Homo sapiens: one gene and its partner. The protein of the gene in region 1 purifies or fractionates together with the protein of each later gene. This does not show direct contact. Each region holds a gene or a part of one and is shown on either strand. Other genes may lie near its edges.

Region 1 (3,500 bases):
CCCAATCTAGTTCCCAAAATTCAGATGTTACCTTAAACATTATACTTCCTGGGCACATCAGACAATATTTTGGTAAAAGCTAGTCTTAACTATATTGCCTTGCTCACTTTTGTATCCTTGGTGCTTAGTACATTGCCCAGCACAGAAAAGGCAATCAAAAAATATATGCTGTAAGAATGAATGTTCAGTTCTAATGGTTGGAAGTGATGGCAATGTTGGAAAATACTCACTATAGTTAAATGAAGACATTTGCTGTGTGCTGGAAGTATTAAGAATGCTCCTAGGGTTTGAATGTGTCCCTCAGAATTCATGGGTTAAAATTTAATCCTAGCTGGGTATGGTGGCTCACGCCTGTAGTCCCAGCACTTTGGAAGGCTGAGGCAGGCGGATCACAAGGTCAAGAGTTCAAGACCAGCTTGGCCTATATGGTGAAACCCCATCTCTACTAAAAATACAAAAATTAGCCAGGCGTGGTGGCAGGCACCCGTAGTTCCAGTTACTGGGGAGGCTGAGGCAGGAGAATTGCTTGAACCTGGGAGGCAGAGGTTGAGGTGAGCCGAGATCATGCCACTGTACTCCAGCCTGGGTGACAGTGCAAGATTCTGTCTCAAAAAACAAAACAAAACAAAACAAAAACCTTCATCCTCAGTGTGAAAGTGTTGAGAGGTAGGGCCTAGTGGGAGGTGTTTAAGTCATGAAGGCTCTGCCCTCGTGAATAGATTAATGCCATTTTCAAAAGGGCTCACAGGGGTAGGTTCACTCTGTTGTGCTCTCTGCCCTTCCACCTTCCACCATGTGATGACATGGAAAGAAGATCCTTGCCAAATGCTGCTGCCTTGATCTTGGACTTCTCAGCCCCTAGGACTGTAAGCCAATATTCTAATCATTATAAATTACCCAGTCTCAGGTACTCTATTACAGCAGCACAAAATGTCCTAAGAAAGACACCATAACCGTTCATTTCAATAAATCTTCTTTTCCCATATCTTTTATTAAAATGTCAAACAAAGAAAATAAATTAATTTGTAATTTGACATTTATTTTTTCTTGGCTGTCCTTCAAATATTGGTGCTCAAAATGACTTAAAAAAACCCAAAGAAACTAACAGAAGAGAAATGGCAGTAGAAGTAGAAGCCACTGCTTTGGAAAACATGAAATTATTCATTCAGAGCATGGAATTGGGTATGCATTCTGGCTTCACCACCACCAACTGGGCAGTCTGGTGCAAACTATTTTAGCTCTCTCAGTGCCAGTTTTCTTATCTATAAAACAGGGATACTTTTGGGAAGACTTGTGTAAATAAAATGATAATACATGTACAGTGCTTAGTTCCTGACACTAAATGAGTATTCAATAAATAAAGGTTATTATCATTAGCAATTAAAGAATTAAAGTTGATATTTTAGTTTCTTGACCAAAACCAACCTAATTAATGTAATAATTTTTTTTAAGTCTAACATGACAGATTGTTTTGAAAGAGAACCTTTTACATGATTTGAACAATGAATACAGGTTTTGTTCTTAGACTCAGGAGCAAAAAGCCAGGATGCAAGAGCTCTAAGCCTTTGCCAGACAGAATTTATCATTGCGTCTACTATACTCTGACAGCCATCCATCCCTTCATACTCGTGAGACAGGGCTAATATGTTTTATTTACCTGTAAGTAGAATATTTATAGGACTTTGTGAGTGATGAAATGCAAAGAATGAAAGAGAATGAGGACCCTTGGATGAACCCCAGGTTTCCAGCTTGGGCAACTGGGTGGTGGTAAAGCAACTAACCCACCAACTGGATGAGGGTGAGGTAACATTGAGTTCCTTGGCCCATTTTGTTCAGGTACCTTCTTAAATGAAACTAAGACTACTTGAGCACTATCTTTTATCTTCCATTATACTCTACAAAATCTAGCAATAGGGTCATCTTATCTTCAATGCTGCTTCCGCAATGTTAAAGTAGGCTGACTTTATCTATAACCATCTTAAATCCCTTTTTTATTTTCTTTCAACAATTCAATGAGCATCCTTTGTGTGCCTATGGCATATCAGACTCTGGAGTGGTTGCTGGGCACACAGAGGTGTCTTATGTAAGACATGTTGGCTAATTCTGTCCCACAGGGTTAAGTATAGTAGACACAATAACCAATTCTGTCTAGAAGTACTGAATGGCTTCACAGAGGACATAACATTTAAGCTGGGTGGGAATTTAAAGGAACAAGAAAGGGGACAACTCTACTGATGGAGAAAAAAGAGTTCAAATTTGAGAGTTCTCTTCTGATCTTCTTTATGTTCTTGGTGAAGGGGAAGGCTCAGTAACTTGCTGACATGAGTAGGTAAGCACAATGGTAAAGTAAAGATTTAAAATAAGCACTGAAAGGAAAGAGAAGGGAACTGTGGACTGCTGAGCAGTGCTGAAGCAGGTTCTAAGTGTACTTGAAAACATTGATCTCAAGTGGTATTTGTCAGCTCTACCAATGTAATTTTCTCCAGCAGCCCTAGGCATTCCCAGGGCAGGGCTCTGACAAAGCAATGGTTGGATCACATGTATGCCTACCTAACACTCAGTAGATTAAATTATATAAGAAAGCAAACCCGGTGCTTCATTTCCAACAGAATATATTAGTGATCTTTAGTTCTCAGATAAAATAGGGGGTTTGTTCCCCAACTCACCATTTTGCATTTTCTCTGTTAACACTTAAGCCAGTGCCTGAGTAGAGAGTGGTTCTGTTCGTCGGCTCTTCAGCCCAAAGAAGCTGACTTGGGTCTAAGGCAGAGACGGGCAGGTCAGCTCCAACGCTGACGAGGACAACTGGAGTGTCTGAGGCAGTAATGCACTGATCCTCAAGAGGGAGAGGGGGGGCCAGAGGAGAAGGTGCTGGAGCCACAGGGGGTGGAGGGACCATGGACTTGAATTTGCCTGTGTTCTGCTCCTCAGCTCCAGGGACAGTCTGTTCGAGTTTGAAACTCTCCACTCTGGTCTCTGCAGGCTCTCCTTTCAGGTCGGATGTGCCAGAAGTTGTTGTGTCTGAGGACAGGTGAGAAGTTATTGGCTGCTTGTCAGTTTTTCTCTTGCCCTTGGTGGTCCCCACTGTCCCTGCTTTGCTAGAAACTGTCTCCTTTGAAGCTTTGGGACGAGATGAGGTGGATGAAGTGGATGGCGAAGCTGATGCTTTAGAGCCAGTTGTTTTTTTTGAATGAGAGGAGCCAGCTACAATAGAGAGACCTTGCATTAAAAAATCAAAGAATACAATGCTTTTTAAAATAAAGTAACCAAGGTGTAACTGTCAACAACATTTAAAATGTTCCCTTTAAAGTTTGTTGAATAAATGTATAAGAGAAAATAGGCTAATCATGATAATAGTCTTGTCTTCTGCCCCTCCCTTCCTCCAATCCAGCAAGGAGCAAGTGATATTTACGGCAAAACTCAGAGGAACAAGAGTCCTCTGTCTTCTCTCACTTTAGTCTTTAGCTGAGCCAGCCAAAGGGAGAATCTTCTGCCCCTTG
Region 2 (4,124 bases), on another chromosome or scaffold:
TTAGTAGAGATGGGGTTTCACCATCCTGGTCAGGCTGGTCTTGAACTCCTGACCTCAGGTGATCCACCCGCCTCAGCTTCCCAAAGCGCTGGGATTACAGGTGTGAGCCACCGTGCCTGGCCGATATTTTTATTTTTAAATAATTTACAAAGTTGATCTTCAGAAAAATTTCACCAACATATTCAATAAGAGCAGGGGAGAGTGCATGTGTCCCCAGTCCTTCAACAAATCTGTTAAAAATTTTCATGTAATCTAATCTATCAGCATTTGTCTCTTTGTTGTACAGTCACACTGCGTATCGATTGGTCAACGACAACGGACAGCATAGAATACGATAGGCTATAGTATGTAGCCTAGGAGTGTAGTAGGCTATACCATATAGATTTGTATAACTACACTCTACGATGTTCGCACCACCACGAAATTGCCTGATGCATTTCTCAGAACATATCCCCGTTATTAAGTGGCACGTGACTATAAAGGCCTTCCACACCAAAAGCTTATGTGGAGATAAACGGAGTCTACCCATAAGAGAACAAACAAGTGCTACTTATTCACAGCTTTTTTATAGCAAGGAAGTCAAGCCACCATCATTTGAGTCTGGCAGAGATTCAAAGACAGGCAGGGGAGTGGGAAAGCTTTATAGTGGAAAACAAAAACACAAAGACTTCAGCTACGCTCTGATTGGATGTTGTTGACGTGAGGAAGCTAGAGGCAGGCCAACTAGAGGCAAGCATCCTATGTGATTGAATATGGGTTCATATTTGGGTTTTTCTTGTTTGTCATCAGGTCAAAAAAATTAAAAAGGCCAGAAAGGCTAGCAAATTGATTAAAGTCCTGAACATTTCTGCAGATGCTATACTTTGGCTTTTTGAGCTGCTTGCAGCAAAGGTTGTGGGTCACAGTTCTATTTTCGTATGTGGTCTGGTCATTGTATATTCAGTTTCTCACTTAAGATAAATTAATCGTTGTTTTATTTTGCTTCAAATATAACTTTATTTTTTATTCATTTGAAAATTTATGTTTGTACATGTCAGGAAAAAGGGACAATTTCATTTATTTTGGAAAATTTTTCTTAAGTTTTTTCTAAAGGGCAATATTCTATTCTTTATACAGTACTTAAGTTCACATTCATACGATTTTATCGGGTGGGTCTACGTTATTTCAGTGGAATTTAAGAGCAACATTATCAAGACTCCTCTTCTGGACCGCCCAACTCATTAAAAAAAAAACTGTGATTTTCATTAAGATTCTTTCTTTGATTAATTTCTTAACAAGAAAAAAAGGACAAAAGGGCCCAGGGAGGTAAGAGGGTACCTGCTGGAGAGGTGGTGGGTGGCTGGAAGCGGCTGGCTAGGAGGCGGGGCGTGGGGCGGTGGAACTCCTGGGCTGCGGCATTCACGTGATCTGCACGGGCGCAGATGTAGGCACCGGTCCGAGTGCCTGCCCTCTGTCCCCGCGGCTGGGTCTCGTCTGCTCCGGTTCCTGGGCTCCTAATTCTTGGTCCAGCTTCTTCCAGGTCAGTGTGCGGGCCTTCCACGCTGCCAGCGGAACACTGGAATGGCGGAAGGGGAACGGGTACGGCAGGGGGAAAGGCTGGGGGTGGGGTCGGGTCGAGTCGAGGGAAGCTGGCCCGAGTGTGGACAGAGATGGCGGTGGGAAAACGGCTAGGGGTGGCTGAGGGGGAGCACGTAGGCAGTGGGCAGAGGGTGAGGAAGGCGAGCACCCCCAAGTATCCATGCTCGCTTTCCAGGCACATCCTCTTCTCTGCCCTCCGTCCATTTTGGAGCCGGAGATGGTGGGCTGGGGCCGCCCCAGTAGTGAGACAGTGGAAGTAAACCCCATCTGCCGTTCCCGTGCGTAGAGAAAAACGTTGACCGCGAGGCTGGGGAGGAGAGTTGCCTCTGAGGAAGAAGGGCACAGAGACCCAAAATTAGTTTGGAAAGCATCCTGATTTGGTGCCCGAGGCCTGGAAAGAAATGGCGGCTGGGGTGCGGCGGAGGTAGGGGAGGAAAACGTTGGATGAGAAGGGCCTGGACTCAGGAAAGGGAACCGCGTCCGTGTGAGCCCGCTGAGCGCGCAGACCCTGCCCCTGTCTCCTGTCTGTCTGCAGGTCTGCGCGTCTGTTGTTCCCAGCGCTCTGCGAAGCCTGAAAAGGAGGAGCAACCTGTCCAGAATCCCCGCAGGTCCGTGAAAGTACGGGGCTGCATGGACAGGGGCCCACAAGGGTTGAGAGTGTGGAGGGCCCGGCCAGGGCCGAATTGGGGCCTTTCCCATTCCCCCACCCACATGAACACACACCTTACCAGGCTGAACCAGTGCAGAGAAAGTGGCAGAGCCTGTCAGGCAATGGCTGGCTCACGTGTGTGGGAGGAGTGGCGGGCTACGTGGTGGGCAGAAGGCCCTCTTGGAGGCCTGGCCAGCTTAGGGGAACCCTCATCAGGGGTGAGATGCAAGTACTATCCAGACCTGCATTCCACCCCATGCACTCAGTCTCCCATGTCTCCTCTTTGTCTCCTCTTTCCTCCACCCCCATCCCCCAGGACAGGAAAAGGAGGGGAAATCTCGACATGGAAAAACTCTACAGTGAAAATGAAGGAATGGCTTCAAACCAAGGAAAGATGGAAAATGAAGAACAGCCACAAGACGAGAGAAAGCCAGAAGTAACTTGTACTCTGGAAGACAAGAAGTTAGAAAACGAGGGAAAGACAGAAAACAAGGGCAAAACAGGAGATGAGGAAATGTTAAAGGATAAAGGAAAGCCAGAGAGTGAGGGAGAGGCAAAAGAAGGAAAGTCAGAGAGGGAGGGAGAGTCAGAGATGGAGGGAGGATCAGAGAGAGAGGGAAAACCAGAGATAGAGGGAAAGCCAGAGAGTGAAGGAGAGCCAGGGAGTGAAACAAGGGCTGCAGGAAAGCGCCCAGCTGAGGATGATGTACCCAGGAAAGCCAAAAGAAAAACTAATAAGGGGCTGGCTCATTACCTCAAGGAGTATAAAGAGGCCATACATGATATGAATTTCAGCAATGAGGACATGATAAGAGAATTTGACAATATGGCTAAGGTGCAGGATGAGAAGAGAAAAAGCAAACAGAAATTGGGGGCGTTTTTGTGGATGCAAAGAAATTTACAGGACCCCTTCTACCCTAGAGGTCCAAGGGAATTCAGGGGTGGCTGCAGGGCCCCACGAAGGGACATTGAAGACATTCCTTATGTGTAGTGTCCCTGGCAGGCATTTACCAGGCCATGTGCTTTAACGTTACGGTAATACTTTACTTTAGGCATCCCTCCTGTTGCTAGCAGCCTTTTGACCTATCTGCAATGCAGTGTTCTCAGTAGGAAATGTTCATCTGTTACATGGAAAAAATGTTGATGGTGCATTGTAAAATTAAAAAACACAACTTGCAGAACCAAATATATGGCATCAGTACATTTTTGTAAAACTACAAAGATACTTACCTAGTAATATAGTATAGAAAACAATTCTGAAAGCTGTGTCCACTAAAAGATTAACAGTGGTTATCTCTGGGTGATTTTTTCTGTTCTTTTTTGTTCATCTGTCCATTTTTCTCCTAAAAACAGATTTCTTTAGTCATAAAAATAATAAAATATAAAGTATTGGAAAACAGTGAATATTTGAATTTCATTCATTTGAATAAGCATTCAAATGAACTGCCCAGTGAACTTATAAAGACAGTGGATATACTTAAAATTCTTGTGAGGACATAAAATGATAGGTAAAAGTTGCATTACCTCTGGGACTGGAAGCTGGAGGAGTCAACTCGATGGTTATTACAGAGCCATTGCTGTAAGGGACAGCCTTGACATCTGTGAAATGGGGATAAAATTAGCCTAGACATGTGGAGAAGATCAAATGAGGTATTGAGTGTGTGAGCTGTGTTAGGCTGGCTCCTACTCTCTCCCCTTGCACTAGCAGAACCAGTGCCCAGTCAGATACTTGGGAAGGGCTGAAGGAGGGTCTCACCTGTGCCCAGAAATAAGTCCAGACAGCTGAGAGATGGGTGCCACTCTTCCTGGGTAATGCCATACTTGAAAGGTAGTGTGCCCCTTCTCATGGATCCTGCACCCTCCTAAGGCCCCAGCTGCTGCTGGTGGGCTGAAGACC

What was found. Proteins that work in one complex are often made in the same cells at the same time.
Region 2: the proteins of PHACTR2 (region 1) and TCEAL4 fractionate together in Homo sapiens (co-fractionation; one large-scale study listed by BioGRID). This does not show direct contact.

The regions. Positions count from the first base shown.
Region 1 is NC_000006.12:143,764,965-143,768,464, reverse strand, and holds part of PHACTR2 (phosphatase and actin regulator 2), read right to left. Parts: intron 3,205-3,500; coding exon 2,667-3,204; intron 1-2,666.
Region 2 is NC_000023.11:103,584,106-103,588,229, forward strand, and holds TCEAL4 (transcription elongation factor A protein-like 4), read left to right. Parts: upstream 1-1,409; 5' UTR 1,410-1,519; coding exon of another isoform or gene 1,520-1,655; intron 1,656-1,753; exon of another isoform or gene 1,754-2,022; coding exon of another isoform or gene 2,023-2,196; intron 2,197-2,543; coding exon of another isoform or gene 2,544-2,570; coding exon 2,571-3,218; 3' UTR 3,219-3,624; downstream 3,625-4,124. UniProt on the Homo sapiens protein: May be involved in transcriptional regulation.